2 linked regions of the Homo sapiens genome follow. The protein of the gene in region 1 interacts with the protein of each later gene in a pairwise test. Each region holds a gene or a part of one and is shown on either strand. Other genes may lie near its edges. The genes, in order: ANXA10 and BLVRB.

The links.
Region 2: the proteins of ANXA10 (region 1) and BLVRB interact in binary tests that used the Homo sapiens proteins (3 or more experiments, as listed by UniProt).

The regions. Positions count from the first base shown.
Region 1 is NC_000004.12:168,086,020-168,096,325, forward strand, and holds the start of ANXA10 (annexin A10), read left to right. Parts: upstream 1-6,517; 5' UTR 6,518-6,681; coding exon 6,682-6,699; intron 6,700-6,717; exon of another isoform or gene 6,718-10,306.
Region 2 is NC_000019.10:40,454,366-40,463,987, reverse strand, and holds part of BLVRB (flavin reductase (NADPH)), read left to right. Parts: intron 1-5,442; coding exon 5,443-5,607; intron 5,608-5,743; coding exon 5,744-5,833; intron 5,834-9,622. UniProt on the Homo sapiens protein: Enzyme that can both act as a NAD(P)H-dependent reductase and a S-nitroso-CoA-dependent nitrosyltransferase. Promotes fetal heme degradation during development.

The sequences.
Region 1 (10,306 bases):
AATTATAAATTAAAAGCAAACAAAAACTACTCTATTCATAAGACAACATTTCAAAAATAAAAAGACAAGCCACAAACTGAAAGCAAATGTTTACAAATCAAAGCTGATAAAGGTTAAGTGTCCAGAATTTATAAAGATCTCTTGCAAATCAACACTAAATATACCAACTTTGTTGAAAATGGAGAAGATATTTGAACAATTTGTGTAAGAACATGTAAGGATGGCCATTTAACATATAAAAAGATTACATTCTTAGTAATAAGAGAATTGCAAATTAGAAGCACGATGTGATACAAGCACACAATTTAATGGCTAAAACTTAAAAGGGTGAAAATGTCAAGTATTAGCCCCAAATCATCTTTATTAGTAACAGTCAAATGATTACCAACATGTAAATGGATAAATAATATGTGGTACATCTACTTTATTGGGTGATTTATGAAAATAACAAAGATTAGTGGGAAGAGCCCATGGCTTCCAGTTTGAATAAAGATGGAAATCATTACAAGCAATTTTCTTTAAGTTATAAATATAATTTATAAATATATGATAAGGTGATCCCCTAGAAGATATTCAGGCATAAATTACCTCATAATAAATGACTGTGCAGGAAATAGAATGGAAATAAGAATTAAGAGAAAGAAATGATGCAAAATATTCAATTGCTAAATAAGAACTTATTTTACATATTTAGATGAATTAAGTGGACATTGAATTGCTATGGTATTGAGATCACATTGGATGCTTTGAGAACAGTAAAAAATAACTGTGACTATTTAAACTTGAATGAAATTATTTTATATGACATTGGTAAAAAAGTAGAAGAGGTACATAGTTTTTCCAAATTCTTTGGGGAATGTTGAGACAAAACAATTTGGAGATCATTGTCTAATTGGAAAAAAAATGTTCTATGTCTAGCCTTCTTCTTATGATTGTTGTTTTAGGCAATTTGCAGTACTCAAAAAAGGCAGTGTCAATGTCAACCATACATAAATATATATAAACATATTAAACAACTTTTGTTAATTATACGTTTTTCATCATGTATAAAATAAAAATTTCAAATCATTAGTTAATGTACATAAGCACCATAAAGCAGAGATTTTTGCCTATCTTGTTTCATGAAGTATCCCAAATACCTATTACACTGTCAGAAACCTTTTAGTTGCCTAATAAATATTTGCTAATAAATTGAATGAATGATAAAATGTGACTCCAAGAAGGATTGAATGCTTACTTAATATGGCACAGTAGACAGTAATTCAAATTTTTCTAGATGCTGACACCAGCAACATAGAAGAATAGGAGGATTCTAACTATCCCTCCTCCCACAGACACACCAAATTAACATCTACACATGAAACAATTATTTCCAAGAGAATGACAGAATTTAGTTGAAAGACTCCTACACACTGGAGAATTGAGAAAATACACACATCAAAATGAGTAGGAAAGGCAGATATAAACCACCAAGCCCACCCTGAGCACTGTGCCTTACGATCAGGAAGAAATCCCCAACTCCTAGCTGCATCTAGAGGGATGAAGGATTTGTACCACACATATCACTATGTTTATAATCTCTACCAGACAGCTTGTCTATTAAATTACCTTGCTTGAGGAGCAGCAGGAAAAGGATATCAGAGGATTTCCTTCAAGCAAAAAGAACAAAGAGGAGTTTTAATCCACACAACTATTCCCAGTATCTGTATACCTCAGATCAATCCAGCTTTCAACTTCTAGAAAGAGTTTGGATACACAGATTTCCAGAAGCTCCCTGTGATCCTGGCCTCAAGGATAAACCTCCTCAACCCTAAATAAGAGAGGCAGCAATTTCTGTGCCTTTGTCCTTACGTTTCTCTAGTGATAAATCCCTGCAATCTTTCATTGGAAGGAGGACGGGCTACCTTGCTGTGCTGAACTGGAAGCTCAATGGATACCTACTGAATAAATCCAAGGAGATCCACATCAATGCATCATAAATCAGACTGTCAAAAATTATGGACAAAGAGAGGATACTGAAAGGACAAGGGGAAAGCAAATCATTACATATGAGGGAGATTTCATAAGACTATCAATGGGTTTTTCAGCAATAATCTTGTAGGTCAGAGGGGACTGAGATAATATAGTCAAAAAGCTAGAAGAAAAACAACTGTTAACCAAGAATATTATACCCAGCAATACTATTTTTCAAAACTGAAAAAGAGATAAAACCTTTCTTAAACAAACAGAAATTGAGGCACTTTATCACTGCTAGTTCTGCCTTACAACAAATGCTGAAAGCATTCCTTCAACATAAAGGAAAAGGTCACTAAATAGCAATAGGAAAATATATAAAAATATTTTAAAAAACTCACTGGTAAAAGCGTACACAGAAAGAAGTAAAAGACATTTACACATGAAAGGAAGAAATGAAATTTTATCTGTATGCCAATGACATAATCTTATACATAGAAAATCCTATCAACTCCACTGAATAACTGTTAGAACTGATTTTAAAAATTCAGTAGGGGTGCAGGTTACAAAGTCATTACGCAAAATCAATGGTGTTTCTATATACTAACAACAAACTATCCATAAAACAGACTAAGAAAACAATCTTATTTAAAATTGTATCACGAAAAAATAAAATACTTAGGAGTAAATTTAACCAAGCAGGTAAAATATCTGTACATTAAAAACTACAAAACATTGATGAAAAACTGAAGACAACACAAATAAGTGAAAATATATTTTATATTCATGGACTGAAGGATTAATACTGTTAAAGTAGCCATACCACTCAAGGCAATCTACAAACTTAATACAATTCCTATCAAAATTCTGATGTGATTTTTCACAGAAAAAGGCAAAACAATTTTAAAATTTGCATGGAATCAGAAGAGACCCCAGATAGCCAAAGAAATCTTGAGCAAAAAAAAGAGCAAAGCTGGAGGCATCACACTATCTTATATCAAAATGTATTATGAATCAATCATAATCAAAACAGCATGGAAGTGGAATTAAAACAGACACACTGACCAATGGAACCAATTAGAAAGCCCAGAAGTAAGCCCAAGTATTTATGATCAATTGATTTTTTGGCAAAGGTGTCAAGAACACACAATGATAAAAAGACAGTCTATTCAATAAATGTTGTTGGGAAAAATAGGATATCCACATGCAGAAGAATAAAATTGGACTATTAACTTACACCCTACAGAAAAATTAACTGAAAATGGATTAAAGACTTAACGTAAGACCTGAAACTGTTTAAAACTGCTAGAAGAAAACATAGGGGGAAGTCCATGTCATTGACTTCAGCAATTATTTCTTGGATAGGACCCCAAAAGCATGGAAAAGAAAATCAAAATTAGACAAATAGGATGGCATCAAACCAAAATGCTTCTGCACAGCAAAGAAAACAATCAAGAGTTACAAAACAATCCGTGTACCGGGAGAAAATATTTGCAAACCACACATCTGTTAAGGTGCTAATATGAAAAATATCTAAGAGACTCAAACAACTCAATAACAAGAAAACAAGCAACCTGATTTAAAAATGGGCCAAGGACCCAAAGAGAGAGTCCTCAAAATAAAACATGCTATTAGACAAAGGATATGTTTAAAAATGTTCGGCATCTTTAATCATGAGGGATATGAAAATTAAAGCTGCAATGAGATATCACCTCCCACATGTTAGAATGGCAATTATCAAGAAGACAAAAGATAAGTGTTGGTGAGGTTGTGCAGAAAAAGGATACCTGGTGTTCTGTTCATGGGAATGTAAATTAGTATAGCCATTTTTAAAAACAGTATGGAGATTCCTCAAAAAACAAAACATGGAATTACCATATGATCCACAATCTCACTTCTGGATATATATCCGTAAAGATTGAGATCAGTATATCAAGGAAATGTCTGCACTCCCATGTTCATTCTGGCATTGTCTACAAAAGCAAAGATATGGCAACAACCTAAGTATCCATCAATGGATAAATGGATACAGAAAATGTAGTATACATAAAATAGAATAATATACATGCTTTAAAAAGAAGGAAATTCTGCCATGTGCAACAATATGGATGAAACTAGAGGACATTGTGGTAAGTCACATTTCAAACGCTAATTCATCTGTGAAGCATTCTTCATTTACTTGCTCCCTAAGTAACTTGCCTCTTGAGGAATTGTTCAAAATATTTTTTGCAACTTGCTTATGGCTCTTACCATTTATCATCTTGTATTCTGTTAATTTTTAAAACCTACTAAACTGTAAATCCCTTTGAATCAAGAAACATGCCTTTTCATTTTCTTCTTAAGTTGCTTTGTTTCATTCCTTGAGTATCTATGTAACATTGAGATTGAGGTTACAGGTTCTGTCATTGGACTGCCTAGGTTCAAATTTCACTCTCCTACTTCAAGAGTGAGATTTTAGGCAACATTCTTGACTACAGAGTAATTCCATTTCCTCTCTACTATCTATCTATGCTGTGGATAAAATATGGGCAATAACAGTACCAAGCTCATAGAGTTGTTGTAAGAATTAATTTATACAAGTATATTGACTTGAAACAATGTTTAGAATAGAGGAAAATCCTTATTATTGATAACATTTATTACTGTACAGGTTGTAGATAATCAAATGATATTTAAGTATGAGTAAATAAGTTACAACCAAACATTTTAAAATTTTCATCAGGGAAATTTTCATAAACATAAAATAGAATTATATTAAATAATTAACTACCATCTTTCCCAATAGTTTTCAAGATTTTGCCACACTGGTATCAAAAGGTGTCTCATGACCCTCTTTTCTATGGAATATTATAAGCCAAATACCAGATATCATAATTTCCCTTAAGGACATGTTTTTTAAAAGCTAAATCACAAAATAATGATGAATAAAATTATACATTAAGTACCTATTATCTGGGAGAAAATTAGGGAATATTATCAAATCTCTTTTCTCTGAATTATCTAATAATCTTAGGGAAAGGATTTTGGTCTCAAATATTTTGACAAATTTTGTTCATATTCACATATTTAGTCTCTAATAAAAGCCATAAGACCTGCAACTTACTAAAATAATCATAAAAAATCATTGTAGTTGAAAACTCTTCTATTGTTTCTAATTAAAAAACAATTTTAGTTGAAAATTCTTCTTTTGTTTCTAATTCTGAATCCTATAGTTTTAATAAGTATATCTATTATTTTATAATTGCTATATGCTGTCTACATATAGCAATTATACAATATAAATTATACAATTATAGCAATTATACAATATAAATTATACAATTTTATAATTGCTATATGCTGTCTACATAGCAAAAACACAAGACCCTGATTCATACACAGACACATACACATACATAGTAGGACCTACTAGATTTTAATGTTTTTGAGCCAAGCAGCATGGTTCCATATATCTCTCATAGTACCAGGTATACTGGTAAGGTAATCAGATAATATTATAAATTGAATGCTGAAGAATATATATATATAGTTGCTCATTATATATATATATATTTGTGTTTGTGTGTGTGTGTGTGTGTGTATTACATAAATACATACTGCTTCATGGCTTTTACTCATATTTTAACATCAGAATTATTTTGGGTAGTTCTAGACCTATGGATGCTGATCAGTTGACACTTGTCTTGTTAGTATTTGGTTCTTTCAATAAAGGATTATTTGCTCCTAATTCTTATTCAAAGTATTTTAAAATTTTTATAAATGAACACTATATTGTTCAATAAATAGCAAGTAGCAGTAAAATAATATAATACAGATTCATTTTGTTATTTTTGGAATCATATATGAATGTATCTAGATAGTTTCCAACACTATATTGAACTTTACAGGTTTTTCTAAAATTTATTTCCTTAAAATGCAATAGTTAATATTAAAATTACATATATATAAATATAGGAAAATTAAGTGCAAAAATGATGGTGAATATATTTCTCCAAAGACTTTTATTGGTGGATAATGAATTCTTTTCTAAATATATTTAAAATAATTTTTTTTTAATTTGTGTATTTTTAGTAGAGACGGGGTTTCGCCATGTTGGGCAGCCTGGTCTCGAATTCCTGACCTCAAGTGATCTGCCTGCCTTAGCCTCCCAAAGTGCTGGGATTAGAGGCATGAGCCACCAGGCCCAGCCCCTAAATACATTATTTTTTAATATAAGAGCAGATAAACAGTAGTTGAAATATTCTTTTAAAATTGTATGGATACACATAGAACCTAGCAATTTAAGATAGGAAACTAGGGCTGGAGCACCTGAAAGAGTTTCCATGTTAACAACAATTAAGCAGAAAATAAATGATTAACTTTATGGGTAATCAACTTAGCTTTCCATAAGTCATCAGCTTTTTCAAAAGATTACATTTCTTTCATTAGTTGGCTACTTTATGTGTCTTAAATCAACATACAACTGGGGATTAGGTTAATGGTTCTACTTATTTTGTGCAATAATTCTGCCTACTCACCTATGACTGATAACTAAGTATAAATACAGTATCTCAAGTCATGCTGTATCCAGATTTGCTTTTACATTTTCTTGCCTGAGTCTGAGGTGAACAGTGAACATATTTACATTTGATTTAACAGTGAACCTTAATTCTTTCTGGCTTCACAGTGAAACAAGTTTATGCAATCGATCAAATATTTTCATCCCTGAGGTTAACAATTACCATCAAAATGTTTTGTGGAGACTATGTGAGTATAATGCTTATTTCTGTAAAGCTTTTCACTCTTTTGAAACTTGATTTATAAAATTTCATTTGTGTTTTTTGACGTTTTTAACAGAAAATGTTGTTCTAATTTGTTTTTATTCTTACTACTTTCTTACTATTTTATGCCCATTTTTTGAAAGAAACATTTATAGAATATTTAAATTTTATTTCTGGGATTATTAAACATTACTATGATAACAAGATTTTTTTAATGCAATTATTTGCTATGCTTCTGAAGCAAATAAAGAAAACTGAAGATTAAAGATTTGGATTTGAGCATACCTAAGAATCCATTTAATTAGTGGGTCTTCAATATAACTATTAAACAGAGTTAATATTATGAAATCTTAAATCCATGCTAATTTTGAAACAACGTATTATCCCACAGAGGCAAGTTACTTTCATATGTAATTTGATTCAGAATTCTAACTGAAGTTATCATAAGATTTTTTATCTCGATATTTACTTCTATCTATAAAAAATTAAAATAATTTTGACTATTAATTTTATTTTAAATCCATGCTTTCTGTAAAAGATAGCTTATTTTTGAATAATTTTCTGTTGAATAGAAGCAATGTATAACAAGATTTAGTCTTTTTTTTGGCCTTGTCTGAATCATTTTAGTCCAACTGCTCTAATAGTCATTCACTTTTTAAAAAGCCAACATGAACATTAAGTTGTCTGAATATGCTTTATATGAAAAGGTCTCCATTTCACATGGTCTTGAAAATTATATACAAATGTGAATTTATGCCTTGTGGTCTTAGAAATTATATACAAGTATATGTGTGTTAATGATGATTCTTTACAAATCTATACTATAAAAAAACTTTCAGGAGACTGAGGCAAGAGAATGGCGTGAACCCGGGAGGCGGAGCTTGCAGTGAGCCGAGATCGCGCCACTGCACTCCAGCCTGGGCGACAGAGCGAGACTCCATCTCAAAAAACAAAAAACAACTTTCTGGGAACTTTTATGCAAAAAAATTATAACATAATTATTTTGTTAAACTTTGGCACACAAAACATTGTTTACTCATACAAAGTAATCAATGCAGGAAAATTTTACTTATATATTGTGTTTCTTAAGATAAATACTGAATTAGGACTTAAAAGGCAGCTATTTTCCATCACTGTTAGTTTAACAATCTTAATTTCATCTTAAGATTTCAAGATCTCATTTTGCAGTTGAAAGTTACCATTATTGTTTTATTAATTGTAAGGTGGTTATATTTCACTACAGAGAAAAAAAGGTATCAAGTAATTAGGCCAGCATGGTAAATGATTAAATTTGCAAATGCCTATTGTTTTCTCTCTCTGTTCATTTGAGTATAGTTATTTGGGAGTAATTACTATTATATTCTATGCATTGTGTGGTCTAATGTTACTATTTATATGCCCATTTTTCAAAAGAAACATATTTTATAGAATATTTAAATTATATTTCTGGGATTATTAAACATTACCAGGCTAACAAGATTTTTTTTAAATGCAATTATTTGCTATGCTTCTGAAGCAAATAAAGAAAACTGAAGATTAAAGATTTGGATTTGAGCATACCTAAGAATCCATTTTAAGTACTTTTGATTAGCTATTTTAGAGATGAATGTTATGTTTTATGTATAATCTCAGCAAGCCTGGATGGTAAAATGGTTTTACATAATCAATATCAGTATAGTTTAAAGTAATTTTCTATCTTAAGGTATATGACCCCAGTGGTCAGAATTTAGTGCTAAAAAGGCCAATATTTGAGGCCAAGCTTATCTCTTTAATCGGATGTTCTCAAGCAAGAGACTGGCTCTTCTGTTGACAAGTAATTTCTTATTTTATAATGTGGGTAGTAATTGACTGAGTTGTTTGTTAAAGATATGTCCCTAGATCCTCCTTATTTAGCAGTCCTGATGCAGTATATATAACATCTGAACTTATACACTTGATATAAAAGGGTTACCATTTTTGAGAACCACAGAGATAGGTAGTTCATTACTCTCAAAGTATAGAAAATTTAAATATACTTCAAGCAAGAGACAAGAATCATGGAAAAATGGTTACATTTCTGTAGGAGATAAACATACATAATATGTTAAAATTATTTTCTATATTTCTGGAGTTAGGCGGGCCCCAGTGATTAAGGTAGTTTAAGTGTGCTTGTTACATTAAGAAGGAAATTTATCTTTGGTGCACTAGTGTATTTTACTTATGTGCTTGACTGTAAGACCATCTTTCAAAAGCAAGGTTTAATTAAGAGATTATTGCAAGCCTGAGTTTTGATATATTAGTCAGATATAAATCACATCATAGGAAGATATTATTATAATATTATAATAGCTCTCTTAGAATGGAGGAAATTTTACTATACAGTGTACTTGCCCAAGTCAGGATCTAAACCCAGGTATCTCTACATCCCTAGAGCTCAAATTCTTTTTATTAATATATAATGTCTCTTTAGAATACACCTGCCTCTTTAGAATACAATTTTCTTGTAAAAATTGTTCGCTGATTTTGTCCTGTTTTGTCATCAGCTGATCCCCCTTGTTCATACAGTAGCATCTTATTTACTATAGATTCATTTCTTAGATGATACCCTTCCTTTTGACCTCTAATAGGATTAGAGTTAACTTTAATCCTATTCCCTTTTCTACCCTTTTGACACCTTTTCCTACTTCTATAATATTTATTGACTGACAGAAAATGTTAATCATAGCAGTATGAAAAGTAGGATACATGTTGATATCATATTTCTTACCTAAAATAGCATTATGTATTATACAAACATATAGAAATTATTATAATAATTTACTGTCTATATACATCATCCATACCTTGTTTAATTTAATCTTCACAGCAAATTGTCCTATAAGAATACCATTTAACATGCAAAGGTTTGAAGTTCTTTTGGAGGTACTAGATATTCTACCCAAATGTTTTATACATATTATTTTTGTGTTTGCAAACTTCTAGGACAGTATTATCATCCCCTTTTTCCAGATGAAAATACTAAGGTTCAGAAAAATTAAATACTTTTCCCAGGAGTTAAAAGCCAGTAGGTGACAGATACAGAGGATTCTGTGTAACTCCAAAATCATTTCTACCACACTGAGAGAAAAAAATGCCTAGGTATGATTATTTTTTGTGACCCCAATTAAATGAGAAAAACTTAGCAGCGGTATCTTTACAAAGATGCTTTGACTCATGAGTTTGCCTCAGAATAGCTCAAGAGCACGAAAGTCAGGCAACAGCATGTTAGGCAGTGTCTACTATGGGCAATGAGACATACAGCATTTTAGCCTAACTAGAATAAAAATAAATGCATTGGTTTTTAGCAGTGGATTACATGTAGTGAAGGAAAAGCACTCCATAAATCAGAAATGAATTCAGGGCATATTACCTAGGAGTGATTGCAGACTGACAAGACATCTCATGGGAGGAGAGGCTGTTGATAAGGCAAGATTATTTTCAAGACTGTCTTTTCCTATAGAAAGTAATTCCCAGGACAAAAACTTCCATCCAAGAAATCTGACTTTGATTGTTTATCTGCAGTATGACTTACTGAGCAAATATTATTAAAAGGTTATTCATACTTCAGATTGCTT
Region 2 (9,622 bases), on another chromosome or scaffold:
AGACCAGCCTGGCCAATATAGTGAAACCCCGTCTCTACTAAAAATACGAAAAATTAGCCGGGCATGGTGGCTGGTGCCTGTAATCGCAGTTACTTGGCAGACTGAGGCAGGAGAATAGCTTGAATCCGGGAGGCAGAGGTTGTGGTGAGCCGAGATTACGCCACTGCATTCCAGCCTGGGCGACAAGAGTGAAACTCTGTCTCAAAAAAAAAAAAATTAGCTGGGCACAGTGGTACGTGCCTGTAATTCCAGGTACTTGGGAGGCTGAGGCACAAGAATCGCTTGAACCTGGGAGGTTGCAGTGAGCTAAGATTGCATCACTGCACCACTGCACTCCAGCCTGGGTGACACAGCAAGATGAAAGGAAAGAAGGAAGGAAGAAAAGGAGGGAGGGATGGAGGGAGGGAGGGAGGGAAGGAAAGAAGGGAGGGAAGGAGGGAGGGAGGGAGGGAGGGAGGGAGAAGGGGCTTGGATTAACTGGAGTTCACAATGGTTCTGTAGGGCCAAGAGTCTTAACAGGCATGAACTCTGGTGCCAGCCTGCCCACATTCAAGTCACCAGCTCTGCGGCTTACAGCCTTTGTGACCAAATGCCTTGTCATCTGTGTACCTAGATATGTGTAAGATCATGACAAAACTGGTAGTACTTGCCCTAGGGCTCTTGGGATAATTAAATGAGATCTTATATAGGAGGTACTTAGACTAGCATTGAATTTTGCAGTCTCTGGATCAGACTTACTTAGGTAAAAATTCAACCTTCTCTACCTACTAGCTGTGTGATCCTGGCCCGGTTGCCTAAAATTGCCTCAGTTTCCCCATCAATGTGGACAGGATAATGATACCTACCTTGCAGGGTTGTTGCAACCTGATGCTTCTCAAACTGTGAGTTACAATGAGATCTGAAACATATGGTCACAACGTGTATCAACAATATAGGGTAACAAATGATGACATAGTATCAAAATGTATCACATGTTAAGTATTAGTTTTGTGAAACTCATTTTAATTATATATGTATGCGTTTGTGTACACCAGGTTAGGCAATGAAATTTTTTGTATTGATGGCTGATTTTTTTTTTTTTTTTTTTTTTTTTTTGAGACAAGAGTCTCACTCTGCCGCCCAGGCTGGAGTGCAGTGGCACAATCTTAGCTCACTGCAAGCTCCGCCTCCCGAGTTCAGCCATTCTCCTGCTTCAGCCTCCCAAGTAGCTGGGACTACAGGCGCCTGCCACCATGCCCAGCTAATTTTTTTTGTATTTTTAGTAAAGATGGGGTTTCACCATGTTAACCAGGATGGTCTCCATCTCCTGACCTCATGATCCGCCCGCCTCAGCCTCCCAAAGTGCTGGGATTACAGGCGTGAGCCACCACGCCCGGCCAATGGCTGAGATTTTCAAAAAGCTTAAAAAGAGGCCAGGCACCATGGCTCACGCCTGTAATCCCAGCACTTTGGGAGGCCAAGGTGGGCGGATCACAAGGTCAGGAGATCGAGACCACCCTGGCTAACACCGTGAAACCCCATCTCTACTAAAAATACAAAAAATTCGCCGGGTGTTGTGGTGCACACCTATAATCCCAGCTACTCTGGAGGCTGAGGTGGGAGAATCGCTTGAACCTGGGAGGCGGAGGTTGCAGTGAGCTGAGATTGCGCCACTGCACTCCAGCCTGGGCAAGAGAGTGAGACTTCATCTCAAAAAAAAAAAAAAAAAGAATGCCCATATTGGCCCATGCAAGCCCCTGCTGCTCCCCCATGTGTGAGGGCAGCACAGATCTTGTGTCATTCCCCTATGAAAGGTGGTCACATAGCACGGGGAGGCTGGTGCTGTGATCCTCACTTCAGAGATGAGGAAGCTGAGGTCCAATCACGGAAGAGGTTGCATGAGGTTCCTCAGCTGGTAAGTGGCAGAGCTGGAGTTTGGATCAAGGTCCCTGGGGCAGTAATGCCTGTGCTTTTGTGTTTACAAAGGTTCAGGGAGATGGCAGAAAACATGACACAGTCCCTGGACCCACAGGGTGCTTGGTTTGCTGCAGGTCAGCATAAAGAGGGCTGTGACAGAGGAAGTACAAGTTACTGGGGGGACCGGGTAAAGAGGGTAAAGGGTGTTCCAGGCAGAGGGCACAGCACGTGCAAAGTCCAGGAGGCAGGAAGCAGCACCATGCATTTGAGGAACTGAAAGAAGAGCAGTTGGGGCCGGGTGCAGTGGCTCATGCCTGTAATCCCAACACTTTGGGGGGCTGAGGCAGGTGGATCACACAGTCAGGAGTTCGAGACCAGCCTGGCTAACATCGTGAAACCCCATCTCTACTAAAAATACAAAAAAATTAGCCAGGCATGGTGGCAGGCGCCTGTAATCACAGCTACTCAGGAGGCTGAGGCAGGAGAATCGCTTGAACCCATGAGACGGAGGTTGCAGTGAGCCGAGACTGCACCACTGCACTCCAGACTGGGCAACAGAGCGAGACTCCGTCTCAGAAAAAAAAAAAAAAAAATGTGCTGTGGGTGAAGAGGGCAGAGGCTTCAGCAGAGCCTGGAGAGGAGAAGCCAGATCCCGAGGGGCCTGGAAGGCTGGCATGAGGAGCATGGGTTTTATCACAGGGCATTTCAGGCTTGCGGGAGGCAACTGAGCAGAGAGGCACTTAAATATTACTGTGGAGAACTCTGTCTGGCTGCTGTGTGGAATATGGATTGGAGAGGGCAGGACTGGGTCCAGGAGCCCAGGGAGGACCCAGGAAAGGGACCAGGAAGGAGACGTAGGCCTGGATCAGGCCAGGAGATAAAGTTGCAAAATGGTTACAAGGTGTAATAGGCCACGCTCGGTAGCTCATGCCTGTAATCCCAGCACTTTGGGAGGCCATGCCAGGCAGATTACTTGAGTCCAGGAGTTCGAGACCAGCCTGGCCAACATGCAAAACCCCATCTCTTTTTTTAATTTTTTTATTGTGTCTTTTTGGGTTTTTTGGTTTTTTATGTTTATTGTTGTTGTTGTTGTTTGTTTTGTTTTGTTTTGTTTTGTTTGAGACGGAGTTTCGCTCTTGTTGCCCAGGCTGGCGTGCAATGGCACAATCTCAGCTGACTGCAATCTCTACCTCCTGGGTTCAAGCGATTCTTCTGCCTCAGCCTCCCAAGTAGCTGGGATTACAGGCATGCACCACCATGCCTGGCTAATTTTGTATTTTTAGTAGAGGCGGGGTTTCCCTGTGTTGGTCAGGCTGGTCTTGGACTTCCAACTTCAGGTGATCCACCTGCCTTGGCCTCCCAAAGTGCTGGGATTACAGGCGTGAGCCATCGCGCCCAGCACCAGGTAACTCTTATTTCTGTGCCAGGTAGTAGCCTAAACTTTTTGTTAATTTAATTTAATTTAATTTAATTTAATTTATTTATTTATTTTTGAGACAGAGTCTTGTTCTGTAGCCCAGGCTGGAGTGCAGTGGTACAATCATAGCTCACTACAGCCTCAGCCACCTGAGTAGCTGAGACTACAGGTTGCGCCAGCACACCTGGCTAGATTTTTTTTATTTTTTTTGCAGAGACGGGGTTTCACTATGTTGCCCAGTCTGGTCTCAAACTCCTGGCCTCAAACAATCTTCCTGTCTTGGCCTCCCAAAGCACTGGGATTATAATAGGCATCAGCCCAGGAATTTGAGGTTACAGTGAGCTATGATTGGCGCCCCTGCACTCCAGCCTGGGCAACAGAGCAAGACCCTGTCTCTAAATATATATATATATATATATATATATATGTTGCTATTACAGTATACCCAAATGTTAACATCCTTTGCCAATGTTTAAAACAAAGGAAGAAATATGTTAGTTGTGAACTTTAAAATGTGTGTGTATGTGTGTGTGTGTTGAAGAGAAACAAAATTATCCAAAATTATTTTGGGAAGGAACATACTAAGACAATATTAAAAATCTTTAATGACCACTAAAGGAGGGCTGGGCTTCCCAGCAGTAAGGCTGGGCAGCAGGGGCTGGGACCAATCCCAGCACTGGTCAGTCTGTAGGCAACCCATGTCCCCCTCAGAACCTCAGTTTCTTCCAGGACCATGGATGGGAGACAGAGACCAGTGCAATGCCTGCATTAACCCTTTAGTTGTTAGAGGGTAGGGAAGTTGCTGGCTGGGTACAGTGGCTTACGCCTGTAATCCTAGCACTTTGGGAGGCCAAGGTGGGTGGATCACCTGAGGTTAGGAGTTCAAGACCAGCCTGGCCAACATGGTAAAACCCTATCTCTACTAGAAACACAAAAATTAGTTGGATGTGGTGGCATGCGCCTGTAGTCCCAGCTACTCGGGAGGCTGAGGCAAAAGAATCGCTTGAACTTGGGAGGCGGAGGTTGCAGTGAGCTGAGATCATGCCACTGTGCTCCAGCCTGGGCAACAGAGGGAGACTCTATCTCAAAAAAAATAATAATGATAGCCAGGTGTGGTGGCACGTGCCTGAACCCGGGAGGCGGAGGTTGCAGTGAGCCGAGATTGTGCCACTGCACTCTAGCCTGGGTTACAGAGTGAGATTCCGTCTCAAAAAATAATAATAATAATAAATAGAAGGTAAGGAATTTACAGGGTGTGGTGCTTGGAGGCTTCAGTTCAGATTATTTATGAATTATCATGAAGGTATGGTCTTTTTTTTTTTTTTTTTTTTTTTTTTTTTTTTTTTTGAGATAGAGTCTCGCTTTGTCATCCAGGCTGGAGTGCACTGGTGCAATCTCTGCTCACTGCAACCTCCGCCTGTCGGGTCAAGTGATTCTTTTGCCTCAGCTTCCCAAGTACTTGGGATTACAGGTATGTGCCACCATGCCTGGCTAATTTTGTATTTTTAGTGGCAATGGGGTTTCATCATGTTGTCCAGGCTGGTCTCAAACTCCTGACCTCAGGTGATCTGCCCGCCTCAGCCTCCCAAAGTGTTGAGATTACAGGCGTGAGCCACCATGCCTGGCCAAGGTATGGTCTATTTTAATAATCAGCCCAATACTAAGCATCAACTGTAGGTATGCCAGCAAAAATGTTTGAAGGCCACGGCGCAGTGGCTCATGGGGAGGCTGAGGCAGGCAGATCACCTGAGCCCAGGAGTTCAAGACCAGCCTGGGCAACATGGCAAAACCCCTTCTCTACAAAAGATTGCAAAATTAGCTGGGTGTGGTGGTGCACACTGTGGTCCCAGCTACTTGGGGTGCTGAGATGGGAGGATCAGTTGAACCCCGGAGGTTGAGGCTGCAGTGAGCTGTGACTGCACCATTGCACAGCAGCCTGGGCAAGTGAGCAAGACCCTGTCTCAAAAACAAAACAAACAAAAAGAAAAAACCAAAAATGTTTGAAGACCACTTCCCCAGAACAGAGGAGGGGATGGATTTGAGAGTTCATGGTGGCTTCTAGGACCCAGCTCCTGGAGCCCAAGAGTGCCAGCCCACTGACCAGGCTCTCTGCTCCTCTTTGCCCACAGGTTACGAAGTGACAGTGCTGGTGCGGGACTCCTCCAGGCTGCCATCAGAGGGGCCCCGGCCGGCCCACGTGGTAGTGGGAGATGTTCTGCAGGCAGCCGATGTGGACAAGACCGTGGCTGGGCAGGACGCTGTCATCGTGCTGCTGGGCACCCGCAATGACCTCAGTACTGAGCCCCCCCTCTGCCCACGGCCCTCCCCTACACCTCGGCCCCCAGCGCCACCCCCGCCCCCGGCCCCGCCCCTGCCACCCCTGCCGCCGCCGCCGCCCACCAGTGACAGCCACTCTCTGTCCCCTCTAAGGTCCCACGACAGTGATGTCCGAGGGCGCCCGGAACATTGTGGCAGCCATGAAGGCTCATGGTGTGGACAAGGTCGTGGCCTGCACCTCGGGTGGGTGGTGGGATCATGGAGGTGGGGCTGAACTGGGGGGTACTGGGGAGGCAGCCCAGGGGCCTCTGAAAGGTGACGCTGAAGCCATTCCATGTTACTGTGCATTTACTGAACACCAGCTGTGTGCCTGAACCTTACTGGGTGATGCTGGGGACACAGTGGTGACCTGTACAGCCCTGGGCCCTGCTCACACAAGGCTCACAGAGAGAGGTGGTAAACAGATCCATGATCAAACTGACATCCAGATCATCGGAGCTGGGATCGGGAGGCAGGCAGAGGGGATAGGGCCACAATGGGAGAAACTACAGGACTATGGGAGCCCAGAGGAGGCGTCCGACTTAGGCTGAGAGAGGTCAGGGTAGGCCTCCCAGAGGAAGTGATAGAGCTGTGGATAGACACTAGGTCTCTGCCCTCACAGAGCTCCCGATTATGGGGACACAGACATTAAGCAAATAGTTGCCCTGTATAATCATTTATTTATTTATTTATTTATTTATAGTTATTTTGAGGTTTGTTTGAGATAGAGTCTTGCTCTGATGCCCAGGCTGGAGTGCAGTGGCGTGATCTTGGCTCCCTGCAACCTCCGCCTCCCGGAGGTGGTTCTCCTGCCTCAAGTGATTCTCCTGCCTCTGCCTCCCAGGTAGCTGGGACTACAGGTGTGCACCACCATGCCCAGCTAATTTTTGTATTTTTAGTAGAGACAGGGTTTCGCCATGTTGGCCAGGCTAGTCTCGAACTCCTGACCTCAAGTGTGTTTCATGACACAAATTGCCTCCCTGGAAAGGGAAGTGGCATGAGGGAGGGCTGCCTGATGATTGTAATTACACTCCAGGCAGAGGACAAAGCAAGCAAAGAGGCCTGGAGGCCAGACCTAGTTGGAGGGTAGGAAGCAAAATCATTTATGGCTTTTTTCCTCAAGCTCTGAAATGGAAAAGTAATACACGAGTAAACTTGCGATTTCAGAATGGTTCACTTTTTTTTTTTTTTTTTGAGACTTTCTGTCACCCAGGCTGGAGTGCAGTGGTGCAACCATGGCTCACTGCAGCCTCAGTCTGGGTTCAAGTGATCCTCCCCACTGCAGCCTCCCAAGCGGCTGGGACTACAGGCATGCACCACCACACCTGGCTAATTTTTTGATATTTTTGTAGAGACAAGGTCTTACTTTTGTTCGCAGATTGGAATGGTCTGCTGTTAATTTTAGTTTTGTTTTTTTCTCCCATGTCTTTTTTTCTTTGAGATGAAGTCTGACTCCATTGCCCAGGCTGGAGTGCAGTGGCGTGGTATCAGCTCACTGCAACCGCCACTCCACCTCCCGGGTTCATGGTGCCTGGGACCAAGATCGTGGCCCACAGTGATTCTCCTGCCCCAGCCTCCTGAGTAGCTGGGATTACCGGCGCCTGCCACCATGCCCTGCTAATTTTTGTATTTTTGGTAGAGACAAGGTTTTGCCATGTTGGCCAGGCTGATGTTGAACTCCTGGCCTCAAGCAGTCCTCCCACCTCAGCCTTCCAAAGTGCTGAGATTACAGGTATAAGCCACCACGTCCAGACTCTCCCATGTCTTAAAAACCAATTTAACTGGTTAAGTTTTGCTTCCATGAAAAAGACAAACCTGTAAAATTGATTTAATTTGCTTTCTTTTTTCTCATTTTTTTTTGTTTAGATTGTTTTCTAAATATTAAAGTCTTAGGTGTGCCAGGATTTTTTTTTTCATTAAAAAAAAAACAAACATAGAGACAAGGTCTCGCTCTGTCACCCAGGCTGGAGTGCAGTGGCCTGATCATAGCTCATTGTACCCTTGAACCCCTGGGCTCAAGGAATCCCCTCACTTTAGCCCCTCAAATAGCTGGGGCAACAGGTATGAGCCATTGAGTCCAGCTTAACTTTTTATCTGGAAATGATCTTAAACTTACAGAAAAATTGAAAGGACACCAGTACACCTACCGTCCTCTGTTCACAGACACACAATGTTTTTTTTCTGACCCATTTGAAGTTAGCTTACATACATCATGGCTGCTTACTTCAATGTGTAGGTCCTCAATATACTTTTTAACTTTTTATTATAAAAATTTTTAAACAGAAAAGTTAATAGTCGTGTGAACAACCATATTCCTTTTCTTTTTTTATTTTTAAGTTTGTAGCTATCTATCTATTTATTTATTTATTTTGAGACCGGGTTATAAGGCTGGCTAATTTTTGTATTTTTGGTAGAGATAGAGTTTCGCCATGTTGCCCAGGCTGGTCCCGAACTCCCGGACTCAAGCGATCCACCAGCCTCAGCCTCCCAAAGTGCTGGGATTACACCTGAGCCACTGCACCTGGCCAACAGCCATATTCCTGATTTTAAAATTGTGATTGTGTTTTGTAATTGGTTTATCTATGCACATACACATACACAAATAGATTTTGTTTTTGTTCTCCTAAACTATTTGGGTTTTTTGTTTGTTTGTTTTTATTTGAGACAGAGTCTCATTCTGTCACCCAGGCCGGAATACAGTGGCGTGATCTTGGCTCACTGCAACATCCACCTCCTGGGTTCAAGGGATTCTCCTGCCTCAGCCTCCTGAGTAGCTGGGATTACAGGTGCCTGCCACCACATCTGGTTAATTTTGTGTGTGTGTATTTTTAGTATAGATGGGGTTTCACCATATTGGGCAGGCTGGTCTGACCTCAAGTGATCTGGCCTCCCAAAGTGCTGGATTACAGGCATGAGCCACTGCGCCCAGACTTCCTAAACTATTTGAAATGGAGTTGCACACCCACAGACACCTTCGGCAAGTCCCAAGAAAAAGGACTTTTCTCTTCCAGCACCACAGTGCTATTGTCACACTTTAATTATCTTCCAGCCTCTAATTATTAGAGTTTAATCTTCCCTCCATATTCAAATGTCAAGGTAAAAGATTAGAAAGATTTTTGTCATCTAAGGAGCTTGGAGTTTATCCATTAGGGCTTGGGGAGGATTGTTTTTTATGGAGGCATCTGAGAGGATTAGAAAGAAACCCAGAGTAAGGCCAGGCACAGTGGCTCACGCCTGTAATCCTAGCACTTTGAGAGGCCAAGGTGGGCGGATTGCTTGCGTCCAGGAGTGCAGGACCAGTCTGGGCAACACAGCAAAACTCCATCTCTACAAAAAAAAAATACAAAAAATTAGCTGGGTGTGGTGGTACACACCTGTGGTCCCCAATACTTGGGAAGCTTAGGTAGGAGGATCCTTTGAGCCTAGAAGGCAGAGGTTGCAGTGAGCCGTGATGGCACCACTGCACTCCAGCCTTGGCTGCAGAGCAAGACCCTGTCTCAAAACACAACAAAACAGCCGGGTGCTGTGGCTCACGCCTGTAATCCCAGCACTTTGGGAGGCCAAGGTGGGTGGATCACGAGGTCAGGAGATTGAGACCATCCTGGCTAACACAGTGAAACACCGTCTCTACTAAAAATACAAAAAATTAGCCAGGCGTGGCGGCGGGTGCCTATAGTCCCAGCTACTCGGGAGGCTGAGGCAGGAGAATGGCGTAAACCCGGGAGGAGGAGCTTGCAGTGAGCTGAGATCGTGCCACTGCACTCCAGCCTGGGTGACAGAGCGAGACTGCCTCAAAAAAAAAAAGAAAAAAGAAACTAGGGGTAAGTTAGAGACTGGATTTGAGATTGTGAACTGGAGACTGGAGGCTGCAGACAAAAACCCACTTCACACTCTGCACCGCAGTTTTCTCATCTGTAAAGAGGAAATCCTAGACCAGGCGCAGTGGCTCACGCTGTAATCCCAGCACTTTAGGAGGCTAAGGCAGGTGGATCG